Linked DNA regions of Homo sapiens. The protein of the gene in region 4 purifies or fractionates together with the protein of the main gene of each other region. This does not show direct contact. Each region holds a gene or a part of one and is shown on either strand. Other genes may lie near its edges.

The links. Proteins that work in one complex are often made in the same cells at the same time.
Region 1: the proteins of LTK (region 4) and MRPL1 purify together in Homo sapiens (affinity purification with mass spectrometry; one large-scale study listed by BioGRID and IntAct). This does not show direct contact.
Region 2: the proteins of LTK (region 4) and SFXN1 purify together in Homo sapiens (affinity purification with mass spectrometry; one large-scale study listed by BioGRID and IntAct). This does not show direct contact.
Region 3: the proteins of LTK (region 4) and RALY purify together in Homo sapiens (affinity purification with mass spectrometry; one large-scale study listed by BioGRID and IntAct). This does not show direct contact.

What each region holds. Positions count from the first base shown.
Region 1 is NC_000004.12:77,897,330-77,900,829, forward strand, and holds part of MRPL1 (large ribosomal subunit protein uL1m precursor), read left to right. Parts: intron 1-3,500.
Region 2 is NC_000005.10:175,485,060-175,488,559, forward strand, and holds part of SFXN1 (sideroflexin-1), read left to right. Parts: intron 1-3,500. UniProt on the Homo sapiens protein: Amino acid transporter importing serine, an essential substrate of the mitochondrial branch of the one-carbon pathway, into mitochondria.
Region 3 is NC_000020.11:34,083,148-34,085,384, forward strand, and holds the end of RALY (RNA-binding protein Raly), read left to right. Parts: 3' UTR 1-1,737; downstream 1,738-2,237. UniProt on the Homo sapiens protein: RNA-binding protein that acts as a transcriptional cofactor for cholesterol biosynthetic genes in the liver. Binds the lipid-responsive non-coding RNA LeXis and is required for LeXis-mediated effect on cholesterogenesis.
Region 4 is NC_000015.10:41,506,501-41,511,928, reverse strand, and holds part of LTK (leukocyte tyrosine kinase receptor isoform 1 precursor), read left to right. Parts: coding exon 1-112; intron 113-350; coding exon 351-507; intron 508-520; exon of another isoform or gene 521-582; coding exon 583-765; intron 766-2,799; coding exon 2,800-2,898; intron 2,899-3,692; coding exon of another isoform or gene 3,693-3,707; coding exon 3,708-3,860; intron 3,861-4,271; coding exon 4,272-4,367; coding exon of another isoform or gene 4,368-4,415; intron 4,416-4,465; exon of another isoform or gene 4,466-4,484; intron 4,485-4,638; coding exon 4,639-4,834; intron 4,835-5,428. UniProt on the Homo sapiens protein: Receptor with a tyrosine-protein kinase activity. Following activation by ALKAL1 or ALKAL2 ligands at the cell surface, transduces an extracellular signal into an intracellular response.

The DNA.
Region 1 (3,500 bases), on a different chromosome or scaffold from region 4:
CAAAGTGCTGGGATTACAGGCGTGAACCACTGTGCCCAGCCAAAAAAAAATCTTGACTTAATGGTATCAGATGTTTATTATGCATATTAACCTGTGATAGGTACTGTGGCATATATGGGAACAGTTGAATTCTTTTATACCATACTAAGTTATTGTCAGGTAAGAAAGGGACATGATTAGAAAATTAGAATTACACTAATGTGTATTCCTCTTAACTTCTAACTCTTAGAATTGAACACTAGTGCTCCACTCGATGTCTTGTCCAAACGATATCCCAGCAGACTTGTCCAAAAGATATCCACATATGAGCAGGACACTGCTTTCCGTGAGGAATTTGGTGTTGTATCATACGTGAGACTCATGGATATTAAAGTTCTTGTAATGTGTAGCATTTTTAACTCATAGAATAGTACCTTGTACTTCAGGGTTTTGTTTGCATTATTGGAACAATCAGAAGTTTTGGTTATATAAGGGAAAATAACCAAAACGGAGAATTTTTGCAAGGTAATGAATTTGAAATTTTTCTAAATTTCTGCCCCTTCACATATTAGTTTAAAAACTATCCATGTATGAAAGACTCCATTAATGATTAGGTACTGTTACAATTGTTGTAGATGAAATATGGATCTATTATAGCTGGTTCTGTTATGCTTTCCTTTGCTTCCTTTACTTCAGCCTTGGCAGCCTCCTTGATCTTCCTCATACACACTAAGCACTCTCCCTCCTCAGGTCTTTGGATTTACTGTTGCATAGGTCTGTAGTAGTACTGTTTGCTTACTTGCCTTGCTCACTTTCTCATTCGAACATCATCTAAACAGAGAGACCTTCCATGACCATCCTATATAAAATATTACTACCACTTCCTATTATCACTAAATATCATTATTATGCTTTTGTATTCATTTTAGGACATATCACTCTTAGCATCTTTTTTTTGTGTGTGTGTGTGTGATGTGTGTTCAGTGCCTCTCATTAGAGCAAAGATGGTTTTGTTTTGTCCATTGCTACATTCCCATTGCCTAGAGTATAGTACCTGGAAAATAGTACGTACTCTACAAATATTTGAATGAATGAATGAATGAATGAATGAATGAATGTTTAATCCAGCACTCATTCAGTTGGTAGAAGATATAAAATTAAACTGTAACTTAAAAATGGAGTATACAATTTTTTTTTTTTTGAGACGGAGTTTTGCTCTGTTGCCCAGGCTGGAGCGCAGTGGCACATCTCGGCTCACTGCAACCTCCCCTTCCCGGGTTCATACAATTCTCCTGCCTCAGCCTCCTGAGTAGCTGAGATTACAGGTGTGCGCCACCATGCCCAGGTAATTTTTTTTGTATTTTTAGTAGAGATGGGGTTTCACCATGTTGGCCAGGCTGGTCTCAAACTCCTGACCTCAAATGATCCACATCCCTCAGCTTCCCAAAGTGCTGGGATTACATGCGTGAGCCACCGCACCCAGCTTGGACTATATACAATTTATAGTTTTTTTTTTATCAGAATAATTGTATTTATAGTAGTTGAGTATCTACTATGTGCCAAGCCTTGGGTGTGATAGCAGTGAACAAGACAGACAAAGTTCTTGCGGTCATAGAACTAACAGTTTTGTTTTCTGCAGTAGAGAAACTAGTTTAACTTTTTACAGTTACTTATGCACAGATTTTTTTTTTTTTTTTTTTTTTGAGACAGAGTCTCGTTCTGTCACCCAGGCTGGAGTGCAGAGACATGATCTTGTCTCACTGCAACCTCTGCCTCCTGGGTTCAGGTGATTCTCTTGCCTCAGCCACCAGAATAGCTGGGACTACAGGCATGTGCTGCCACGCCTGGCTCATTTTTTTTTTTTTTTTTTGTATTTTCAGTAGAGACGGGGTTTTGCCATGTTGGCCAGGCTGGTCTTGAACTCATGAGCTCAAGTGATCTACCTGCTGCAGTCTCCCAAAGTGCTGGGATTACAGGCATGTGCAACCATGCCTGGCCATTTATGCTCAGATTTCTTTAAACAAACAAAAAGCAAATCACGAGCCCCCCCGCACCTTCATTTGATTCAACTATCCTTTCCAGCTGCGATCTTAGTTTTTTATGTGTTTTATGTTAAGTTTTTCAAATAATGGTCTTCAGCAATTGGCTTCATTTTCTTACTAAGCATTAGTATTCCTTACAGCTTTTTCTTCCATAATTTAGCTAAAATATTGCTCTCTCAGTTATCACAGGTTTTTCTTTTGCCATATTCAAAGGTCTGTTCTTAGTTTTCTCTGTTTCTTGCAACTTCTTTCAGGAGGTAATGTATGCAGTCCTAACTCACCTCTTTTCTAACTATTTCTTCTTTGTTTTCCTTGATTAAAAAAAGAAAAGAGAAGGTATTTTAGGAGGAAATACTTGATCGTATAGTATAGGTTATGTTCATTATGGAAATTGAATAGAGAATTAAAGGAAAAGAAAGTGAAAGGAAGAAAGAAAATGAAGAAAGAAGAGCCTAAAAACACAGAGAAAAGTGAAAGTGGAGAAAGAGGAAAGCAGTTAAATAGCAGTAAGGGATAGCAAAGCCCTAGAAATAGCAGTGATGATTTAACATTTGCCTGTATTGAAAAGCAGAGTAGAATAGTGGTTAGTATAGATCTCTCTTTGTCTTGTCTTTGTCAGTTACTGTGACCTTGAGCAAACTTTTTAACATTTTGTGCCTTATTTATTCATCTACAAAATGAGTTTCATTATAACATCCATCCCATACTGTTTTTGTGATAATGTATGAAGCACAAGCTGGGTACATAACATATGATGTGTGGGCCACTATGATTATCATTAGCTCCCTATCATTCCTAAAGTAGCTATTCATTCTCCACAATTACTTTAGGAGAAGCTATTCTTTTTCATGTATTTATATATCACCTTCATAACTTATTTGTTGAAAAAGCAGATAATTATTGGCATGCCTACCTATGTGCCAGCTGACTACACTTAGTACTGAGGATTGAAAAATAAACTGAAAAGACATTTTCTGTCTTTAAGAAGATAAACACTGAGGAGAGAGAGATGAGAGCAAACTGCTGCACTAAAATGCAATAAGTTTATTGGTAGAAAATGTACAAAGTATTGTAGAGGAATGAGGGACTGCTTTGTAGAATGAGATTATATAAAGAAGACTGCAGTTGAGAGGTTAAGCATGAATAGGCATTTGCTTTCCTTACATGAATCAGGCAGAGGAAATGGCCATTTTACATATACAAAAGTATGAGAGAGCCAGTAGTGTTCAAGAAATTATAAGCAGCTTTCTATCATTTGGTATATAAAATGTTATCAGATACTGGTGGTCAATGGGATTGGACAGTGATAGACAGTGGGCTAGGTCACAGCAGGCTTTGTGTGCTATACCATGGAGATTAGATTTTATCCTCTTTGCAAATAGGAGCCATTGAAAACTTTAGCTCAGAAGAATGATGTAAGATTTGCTTATCAGAATGAGTATTGTGAGAACTGTATAAGTGGTAGGGTAGCCATATGAG
Region 2 (3,500 bases), on a different chromosome or scaffold from region 4:
ATTTGAGATCAGCTGTTTTTGTGAGAATGCTAATGTGGCATTCCTGATTAGTCTGTATGTTTGTTTGTTTGATTTTTAATTCTGGGTGCAGAGGAACACAGATTATCAAATCCAGTTGGTATTTCTTATGCCACTATAGTACAACTTGAAATCCCTTTTAAGTAGAGGAAACAGTGTTGTATTCATTTCCTATTGCTGTTATAACAAATTACTACATATTTGAGTAGCTTAAAGCAACACAGATATATTATCTTAGAGTTCTGGAGGTCAGAAGTCTAGAACAAGTGGGCCTTCCTTCTGGAGGCTCTAGGGCAGAGCCCCTTTCCCTGCCCTTTCCAGCTGCTAGGGGCTGCAGCTCACAGCCCAGCATCACTCCAACCTCTGCTTGTTCCCACATCTGTTTCTCTGGCTCTGCCTCTTCTGCCTCCTTCCATCTCTTATAGGGAGCCTTGTGATGACATTGGGCCAACCAAATATTCCAGGATCATGCCTGCATCTCTCAAGATCCTTAACTTAATCATATCAGCAAAGTCCCTGCACCATGTGAGGTAACATATTCACAGTAGTAGGTGCTCAATAAATAGATACTAAAGATAGCAGCATTTTTTATTAGACCTTCTCACAGCTTCTGGGGATTAGAATGAGACATCTTTGGCAGCCATTGTTCTCCCCATCATGGGTAACATGCAGTGGGCGCTTCCAGTGCCAGGATTTCGGTGGGTTTAACTGGAGTGTGCAGATAAGTAGTTGGCGTCAAGAACTCCTGCTGCTTCCCTTGCTGGAAAGATGGGGTGGCTTTGAATGACATCCCAGAATCTGATTCTTCCGTCTGCGGAATGTGCATAGGATGTCTGAATCACACTATTGTCGTGAGAAATGAGGTAGAATATTCTCTGATGTGGCAAGCTTAGGCCAGCATCTAGCCCAATTCCTTGTATATAATGGAAATTCTTAAGATGTTAGGGTTCCCCTCTCCCTCTCTCTCCTTTTTCCTCGCCTACAAAGGAAGACATCTTTTGTGAGGCCTCCACAGCATTCTTGATCACTTGTACTTAGAGTAACCTTAAGGTTATTGTAGTATAGAACTTCATAGTGTAAAGGTCAAGTTTTTATTTAAAGGAAAAAAGTGGGGGGGCCTCCAAGATATCATTTCTCTGCAGACATTAATTGGTGTCATACTTCAAGAAAAATGGCTAGAAAAGAGTGGTGAGTGGAAAGCTGGCCAGTGCCCTGGAGGCTGCTCCTGCTTTGAGTTCTCCCGGACTTGTTTCTGCTGCCAGCATCTGCCATGCAACCTGGGCAAGTTATTTCCCCTCTGGACCTCAGCTTCCGCATAATAAGCGCATTGGATAAATCATTTTTCAGACTATCCAGTTCTTATACATGATAATACTTATATTTTATAGAGTAACCATATTTTTGGCTGGGTGCAGGGAATCACACCTGTAATCCCAGCATTTTGGAGGCCAGGGTGGGCAGATCACTTGAGCCCGGGAGTTCGAGACCAGCCTGGGCAATAGAGTGAAACCCTGTCTCTACAACCAGTACAAAAATTTAAAAAAACAGAAACTAGCTGGACATGGTGGCAGACGCCTGTAGTCCTAGCTGCTCGGGAGGCTGAGGTGGGAGGATCACCTGAGCCCAGGACGTCAAGGCTGCAGTGAGCTATGATTGCACCACTGCACTCCAGCCTGGGTGACAGAGTGAGACCCTGTCTCAAAATAAATAAATAAATAATAAAGTAACCAATTCTAAAATGAGACCGTGATGGCGGCAGCTTGCCCTAAAGGTTGCCTTATATTTAACAAATTAGGGATAGTTTGTTATTAGGAACTAGAATTCTATAAAAGCTACATATTAATTTTTGTTTTCATTATTTATGTTAAGCATGAAGGAAAAATAGTGATAGTGAGAATTATAGTTAAAAGGGAAGAGAGATTCCTTGGTATTCAATTTTCTGAGAAAAACCCATATCAGATCTTCACCGGGGAACATCACAGATCACCTAGGCCCGAGGGCAGGCACAGGAGGGTAAAGAAGGGTGCAGGGAAGGAAATGGCTCACGGCCTCATGTACAGCCACAGCCTGGTGTCCGTCCAGCATGAAGTCCACACCCAGAGCCATGCTGAATCCCACGCCCAGCCTTATGCTGGACCTCCTGGATCAGAACCTCTAGAAGGAGGATAGTATTTGTCTTTATAAGAAGCTCTCCAGGTGATTTTGATGTGTTCCATTGGTGCAGAACCATCAGTCTGCACTAGCAGCTTTGCAGGAATAAACGGTTTCCCAAGGAGGGGAGGTTTAACGTGTTGTTCCTCTTGCTACCACCATCATTGCTGTTAAATCCACCTCCTCCCGCTTCACTATCCAGAAATGGAAGTGACCGGCTACCAAGGTGTCTTCCTTTTGGCCAGTCGGGCTACCAATAGATTTACCTCTCATCTTTCAGGATGCCACTCTCTCCTGGTTTTGCACCCACCAGTCACTCCCCAGCCCACTTTGCTGTGCCTTCAGTCCTTTCTGACCTCTTCACACCACAGTCCTTGGATCTCTTTATTTACCTTCACTTCCCTGGTGATCTCATCACATCGCATGACTTTAAATATAATCTCTGTCTGACAACTCCCACGGATAATCTCCAGATTACACTTCTCCCCTGAACTTAGACCTACTTACTCTGCTGCCCGCTGGACATCTCCACTTGCTGCCTCCTGGGTGCCTCACGCTTACTCCGTGCAAATCTGAGCTTCCTGTCTTCTCCCTCGGCCCTCTCCACCTCCAGTTTTTCCAACTAAATACCTCAGGAACCATGCTTTTTCTTTCTCTCACATCCCACATCTAAGATGTCAAGAAATCCTGCTGGCACCATTGAAGAAATACCCAGAATTCCAGTACCTCTTGCCACCTGCGCTGCCCCCCAGCTCTGTCTGGATCTCTGCAGTAACCTTGTCACTGTTCCTCCTGTGTCCGCTCTTATCTCCCCACTGTCTGTTCTCCACACAGCAGCCAGAGAGATCCTTTTAAATTGTGCGTCCGTTCATTTCGGTCCTCTCATCAGAACCTTCCAGTGACTCCCATTTGTTGCAGAGTGAAATGCAAAGGCCTTACAGTGGCTCCATAACCCACATCATCTGACTCCAACCTGAGCCATTACATCTCTTACCTCCTCATCTCCCATCTCCCACTTCCTCACTCCGCCCCAGCTCATGCCTTCTTGCTATTCTTTGAAGACACCAGATGCATTTCTTTTTTTTTTTTTTGAGACGGAGTTTCGCTCTTGTTGCCCAGGCTGGAGTGCAATGGCACGATCTCGGCTCACCGCCATCTCCGCCTCCCAGGTTCAAGCCACTCTCCTGCCTCAGCCTCCCGAGTAGCTGGGATTACATGCATGCACCACCACGCCTGACTAATTTTGTATTTTTAGTAGAGACAGGGTTTCTCCATGTTGAGGCTGGTCTCGAACTCCTGACCTCAGGTGATCCGCCCGCCTCGGCCTTCCA
Region 3 (2,237 bases), on a different chromosome or scaffold from region 4:
AAATTTAGTAGCCTTAATAAACATTTATTAGCTCCTGAGTGAGTGGCTTGGCAGTTTGGGCTGTGTTCAGTGTGGTGGTTCTTATCTCATCTGGGCCCTCGTGTGGCTGAAGTGAGCTGGCAGATCAGCTGGGGACTGGCTGGTCTCAGATGGCCTCGCCCGCCTGTCAGGTGGTTGGCTGGGCAACTGGGCCACACGTTCCAGCATCTAGCAGGCTGACCCAGGATTCTAGACATCATGGCTGAGTTCCAAAAACCGCAAGAGAAGACAAGCCCAGTATGCGAGTGCTCTTGAGGATATTGCTATGACGTATCTTTTGGCCAAAGTAAGTCACATGGCTAAGCCCAAATTCTTCTTAACAGGAGGAGCTTCAAAATATGGCCATATTTAAAAAATCTACCTCAGGACTCATTTCACTTGCCAACTCAGAACTTTTAGTAGCAGCTGCCTGGAGTGCCTTTTGAGGATCTGCAGCAATTTTCAGACTGTTTGGAAATACTGACATGATAGTTTGGCAGTTTCTCTTATGAGCATGGAATTCAAGTGTGGGCACGTGAGCGTCAGGTATTTGCCATCCCTGGCCAGGTTGACCCGTAAGGTCATAACCTGCCCCATAGGATGTTATATGCAGTAGGCCTGTCTGACAAGACCACAGAAATAGAGAAGGCAAAGCAGAGCAAAAGATTCTGAGCCAGGCATCCTTGGTTTTCATCCCAACCAGATCATTGATTGATTGAGGTTTTAGGCAAATCAAAATCCCTCCACCAGTAGCCAGATTCTTCATAATAAACTTCCTCCATAACAGTAAACCATTTCCTGAACACCTGCTGTTAAAAAGCACATTTTACATTTACTTAATCTCCACAACCACCCTCAGTAGGTGTAGTAAGGACTTCTGGTTACAAGTTACAGAAACTGAATTCAGTCCTGCTTAGTGGGAGGAAGTTTATTGGCTCACAAATTGTAAAGTCCAGGGATCTTCAGACATGGGGACTTGGGTTCAAAAGCTGCCATCGAGAATCCGGTTAGCCAGGCATGGTGACACGTGCCTGTAGTCCCCGCTACTTGGGGGACTACAGTGGGAGATCATTTGCACCTAGGAGGTTAATGCTGCGGTGAGCCATGATCCTGCCGCTGCACTCCAGCCTGGGTGACAAAGCGAGACCCCAACTCAAGGGGAAAAAATCTGGTTTTCGGGCAGGTTCCAAGAAGTGGTAGAGCATGGCCATAGGGCCTGTGAGAATAGAGGGACAGAGGGGAGAATCCCCAAAAGGAGAGCAAGGCTTGGCTAACAAAAACAGGCATCCACTGTGTGGTTATGTCTATTCTATAGATTTTGTAGATGAGGTTTAAAAGCATGGCCCCAAGTAAAGGTGGCATCTCTATCCTATCCTCGCCTTTATCTAAACTCTGTGACCGATCAATAGCATATGATGGTGGTGGTGCTCTGCCAGTCTCCCAGTCCCAGACTGAAGCACTAGCAGCTTCCACTTATTATCTCTTGGGACTCTAGCTCTTGGGACCCAACCACCATGCTGTGAAGCAGCCCAGGCCACACAGAGAGGCCACGTGTACATGTTCAGCTGACAGCAGTATCAAATGTCAGACATGAGAGAGGAAGGCTTCAAGATGACTCCAGCCCAGCCACCGTCTGAGAACAAAGTAAGAACTGCCTCACTGATGCCATTCAAAGCCCAGCACCATGAGAGATAATAAAACGTTGTTTGAAGATGCTAACTTTTGGAGTGATTTGTTGTATCAGTAGATAACCAGGACACAGGCCCACAGAGGTTCAGTAGCTTGCTGTGCTTCTCAGGGGGCTAGGTTAAGAGTATAGGTTTTGTTGCTGGGCGCGGTGGCTCACGCCTGTAATCCCAACACTTTGGGAGGCCAAGGCGGGCAGATCACGAGGTCAGGAGACCGAGACCATCCTGGCTAACACGGCGAAACCCCGTCTCTACTAAAAATACAAAAAAATTAGCCGGGTGTGGTGGCGGGCGCTTGTAGTCCCAGCTACTTGGGAGGCTGAGGCAGGAGAATGGTGTGAAGCTGGGAGGTGGAGCTTGCAGTGAGCCAAGATCGCGCCACTGCACTCCAGCCTGGGCGACAGAGCAAGACTCCGTCTCTTGCTGACTCTTACCCATATGCCTGCATCTGTCTACCCTCTTTTCTATGTACTTGCTCCCTGGATGACTTCATCCGTGGCTTCAGACTCCACTCATGGCTCCATAATCTTC
Region 4 (5,428 bases):
GTCTCGAGCCGTTGAAGAGCACGCGGCGATGGATGGGAGCGAAGGGGTCCCGGGGTCGCGGCGCTGGGCGGGAGGTGGCGGGGGTGGCGGGGGCGCCACCTACGTTTTCCGGGTACGTGCTCCCTTCGGCGCTCAGCGTTGGGGTCCCAATCCTCTCCCCAGGGGCGCTCACGCACCGGCTCTCCGTCCGTCCCTTGGGGTCCCCCTATCCCTGCGCTGGGCTGGGCTGGCCTGGGCTGGGCTGGGGGCCCCTGCCCTTATCCAGGCCCCCTGGGCGGGAGCCCTCTCCCAGTGGCAGTGCCCCTGGACAGCTGGAGGGCGCTTCCTGGAACACGCCGCTGGCCCCACAGGTGCGCGCTGGCGAGCTGGAACCGTTGCTGGTGGCGGCCGGAGGCGGCGGTCGGGCCTACCTGAGGCCGCGGGACCGAGGCCGGACTCAGGCCTCCCCCGAGAAACTGGAGAACCGCTCGGAGGCGCCCGGGAGCGGCGGGAGAGGCGGGGCGGCAGGTGAGGGCGCGGGCCGCGGGGAGAGGCGGGCGTGCTCCCCGTGTGGCTGCCAACCTTCCTGCTGTCGCTCTGCAGGTGGTGGGGGCGGCTGGACGTCGCGGGCTCCCTCTCCGCAGGCCGGCCGCTCACTGCAGGAGGGGGCGGAGGGCGGCCAGGGCTGCTCCGAGGCTTGGGCGACCCTTGGCTGGGCCGCGGCCGGCGGCTTCGGGGGCGGCGGCGGGGCCTGCACTGCGGGCGGAGGCGGCGGCGGCTACAGGGGTAGGTGCACCGTTGGAGAGGGCAGCTGAGCAGGCCCGAGGGTGAGGTGATGTTAGAACCTAAGTACAGGCCGGAGCCCTCGGGAGGATAGGTGTGGGAGAGGCATTAAGCCCTGCTCAGCAGCTCCAAACAAAAAGCAGGAGCTCTTAGAAAAGGAGGTCAAATACACTGCAAATCAGCATGCAGACAGGACTCCCTAGATTTCCGTTTAATCCAGGATCTTTCCCATCACAGCAGGTCCCTGCCTTGTTCTGCAGCAGTCTTCAGAACTTAGAGCTGGCCGAGTGAGCAAGCTGAGCAAAGGGGCAGAAAGGCAGGATTGGGTTAAGTCAGTGGTTCTCAAAGTGTGGTCCAGGAACAGGTAATATCCCCACAACCTAAGTTGTTCGAAATGCACATTATCAGCTGGGCCTGGTGGCTCACGCCTGTAATTCTAGCACTCTGGGAGGCCAAGGCAGGTGGATCACCTGAGGTCACCAGTTCGAGACCAGTCTGGCCAACCTGTGAAACCCTGTCTGTACTAAAAATACAAAAATTAGCCGGGCGTGGTGGCGGGAGCCTGTAATCCCAGCTACTCTGGAGGCTGAGGCAGGAGAATTGCTTGAACCTGGGAGGCGGAGGTTGCAGTGAGCCGAGATCACTCCATTGCACTTCAGCCTGGGCGACAAGAGGGAAATTCTGTCTCAAAGATTAAAAAAAAAACAATGGAAATTATCCTGGGAGTTGGGGGAAGGTTGGGGAGATGCTGGTCAAAACAATGCAAAATGGCAGTTAAATAGGAGGAATACCTTCCAGAATCTACTGTACTACATGGTGACTGTAGTTAATGACGATGTATTCTTGAAAATCGCTAAGAGAGGCGGGGCGCGGTGGCTCACGCCTGTAATCTCAACACTTTGGGCGGCGGAGGCGGGTGGATCTTGAGGTCAGGAGTTTGAGGCCAGCCTGGCCAATATGGTGAAACCCCCATCTGTACTAAAAATACAAAAATTAGCCGGGCGTGGTGGCATATGCCTGTAGTCCCAGCTACTCGGGAAGCTGAGACAGGAAAATCGCTTGAACCCGGGAGGCGGAGGTTGCAGTGAGCCAAGATCGTGCCACTGCACTCCAGCCTGGGTGACAGAGCAAGACTCTGTCTCAAAAAAAAAGAAAAGAAAATTGGTAAGAGCGTAGATTATAGGTGTTCTTACCACAGAAAATAAGCATGTGAGGTGGTGTATATATTGGTTTGCATTAGCCATTGCACAGTGTGTACATATTTCAAAACATCATGCTGTATACAATAAATATATGAATTTTTTTTTTAGATGGAGTCTGGCTCTGTTGCCCAGGCTGGAGTGCAGTAGTACAAATCTCAGCTCACTGCAACCTCCGCCTCCCGGGTTCAAGCAATTCTCCTGCCTCAGCCTCCTGAGTAGCTGGGATTATAGGCATGCGCCACCATGCCCGGCTAATTTTTGTATTTTTAGTAGAGATGGGGTTTCACCATGTTGGTCAGGCTAGTCTCGGACTCCTGACCTCGTAATCCGCCCATGTCGGCCTCCCAAAGTGCTGGGATTACAGGCGTGAGCCACCACACCTGGCCCTGAATTTTTATTTTTAATTAAAAATTAATTTTTAAAAAGAAATGCGAATTCTCAGCCCTTCTCTAACATACTGAATCAGAAACTGTAAGGGAGAGTCCCAGTCATCTGTGTTTTGATCAAATAACTAGTGTAAATGCCTTTGTGCCTGTCTGGGCTGTACTGCTCATACATACACACATGATCTACATTCTCACAGAAAGGGACTGTGAGGACATGGGACAGGAGGGGCTCAGGCAGGCAGGAGGCATCCCAGCCAGCCTCAGCGAGGCCTTCAGGCTCCAGCTGATTACCCCCTCCTCACCTCCTTCACTCCCACTTGTGAACAGACAGCATTTGCATCATGATGCTGGAGAAGAGAGGGCCACACTGGGATTTCCACCGGGAGATTCCAGCTTCTCCCCCATCCCCCATTTTTGTAGTCAAACTCTCCATCACTCTCCACTTCCAGGGGGCGACGCTTCAGAGACTGACAACCTCTGGGCTGATGGGGAAGATGGAGTATCCTTCATACACCCCAGCAGCGAGCTCTTCCTGCAGCCTCTGGCAGGTATTGGCCCCAACCCCACCTCTGAGCCTGGCCTGGACTTCTTCCGCAGTCCCTGAGCCCACTCCTGCACTGCACTGAAGAGCCACCTGCACTGTGAATAACCTTGCATAGCACAGGATTCTTGCATAGCATAGGGTCATTTGAAAAGTGGGCTGTCATCATGCCATTGCACTCCAGCCTGGGCGACAAGAGCAAAACTCTGTCTTAAAAAAAAGGAAAGTGGGCTGCCAGTCGTGCTGGATGGCAATGCAGGGCATGCTGCGTGCTTTTCAAGTACCCCCTTGCTATGAATTCGCTTCAAATACCTGGGAGTGTGCAGGCTTGACAGAAGTCCCCCAGCTTCTCTCACCACCCTTGTAAGCTTGGTGCTGCTCTTTGCTCTAAAGTCCTGGGCTAGAATTAACCATGTGGCTGGAAAAGGCATGTATTTATTTATTTATTTATTTATTTATTTATTTATTTATTTTTATTTTTGAGACAGAGTCTCGCTCTGTCACCCAGGCTGGAGTGCAGTGGTGCGATCTTGGGTCACTGCAACCTCCGCCTCCCGGGTTCAAGTGATTCTGCAGCCTCAGTGCTGGAGTAGCTGGGATTGCAGGCGTGCGCCACCACACCCGGCTAATTTTGTATTTTTAGTAGAGGCGGGGTTGGCCAGGCTGGTCTTGAACTTCTGACCTCCGGTGATCCGCTCACCACGGCCTCCCAAAGTGCAATGATTATAGGCGTGTGCCACTGTACCCAGCCAAAGGCATGTATTTACTATATCCCAGCCCTACCACACCATATCATATCAGTTCTTTTACTCACAGTCACCGAGAACCACGGAGAGGTAGAGATCCGAAGGCACCTCAACTGCAGTCACTGCCCTTTGAGAGACTGCCAATGGCAGGCAGAGCTCCAGCTGGCTGAATGCCTGTGCCCAGAAGGCATGGAGCTAGCTGTGGATAACGTCACCTGCATGGGTATGTCCTACCTTTGCCCAAGGTCTGGACTCCTGGGGTCACAGACTGGGAGGAGCAGTAGGCCACTGGGAAAGATGGTATAGAGATTTGCTGTGTGCCAGGCCCTGTGGTGGGTGCTGGGCAGGGGATTGGAGATTCATCGGTGCACAGTGCCTTTCAGAGGCCTGTCGTCCAGTGTGGGAGGATGTTTAGATATAGCTATGTAAATGTATATCTCAAGTGACGATTGTTGTGGGAGGTATAAAGTGCTTTAGGGGTGTTCAAGAGGGAGAGGTTGCTTTTGCCCAGGATAATGGGGGAAGGCATCATGGAAAAATTAACACTTGAGCTGAGTCTTGAAGCGTGGGTAAAACTTGAGGGTAAAGGAACAGAGAAGACCTTCCCACTGGAGGTGTCTCTCTTTCTCCCTAGACCTGCACAAGCCCCCAGGCCCTCTGGTTCTGATGGTGGCTGTGGTGGCAACCTCAACACTGAGCCTCCTTATGGTGTGTGGGGTCCTGATTCTGGGTACGAAGCGTCTAGCAGGCACAGTTGATTCAAGGCTGCTCCTCTCCAGTGAGCTGGGATGGGTTTCTGCGGGGTCCCGGGGCTGACTTCAAGACCACTCACCGCAGCAGAGCCGTGGTAGACTCCTCTGGGATTCTAAGATAGGAAGGAGCTGGGGAGGCCTGGGGAAAACGTTTACCTTAATGAGCATCTGGAGGGGTGTCCTGGGCAGGTGGGGGAGGGAGAGTTGATGGGCAGGTGGAGGGTGTGCCGTTATTCTTCCCACCCCCAGTGAAGCAGAAGAAGTGGCAGGGCCTGCAGGAGATGAGGCTGCCGAGCCCTGAGCTTGAGCTGAGCAAGCTTCGAACCTCTGCCATCAGGACAGCCCCCAATCCCTATTATTGCCAGGTGGGGCTTGGCCCGGCCCAGTCCTGGCCTCTGCCACCAGGTGTCACCGAGGTTTCCCCAGCCAATGTTACTCTGCTCAGGTAAGTCTTCTGCCTCCTTCTGAGAACCTATGCACTCTGAATCCCCACCTCTGATTCTCTCCCTGCTGTAGTGAATTATAAGTCCCAGAAAAAATCTGGCCCACATCCCTTGTGTAAGGGAGAGGGAGGCCCTGAGAAGCTCCAGAAGGGGAAGTAACTTGCTCAATGTCACCTCTCCGTCCCAGTTCTTAGAATATGATCTCTCAGCTGGGCGTGGTGGCTCACACCTGTAATCCCAGAACTTTGGGAGGTCGAGGCAGGCAGGTCACCTGAGGTCGGGAGTTCGAGACCAGCCTGACCAACATGGAGAAACCCCATCTCTACTAAAAATACAAAATTAGCTGGGCATGGTGGCGCATGCCTGTAATCCCAGCTACGTGGGAGGCTGAGGCAGAAGAATCACTTGAACCTGGGAGGCGGAGGTTGTGGTGAGCCGAGATTGCGCCATTGCACTCCAGCCAGGGCGACAGAGTGAGACTCTGTCTCAATAAAAAAAAAATATGATCTGGCGCCTGTAATCTCAGCACTTTGGGAGGCCAAGGCAGGTGGATCACCTGAGGTCAGGGGTTCGAGACCAGCCTGGCCAACATGGTG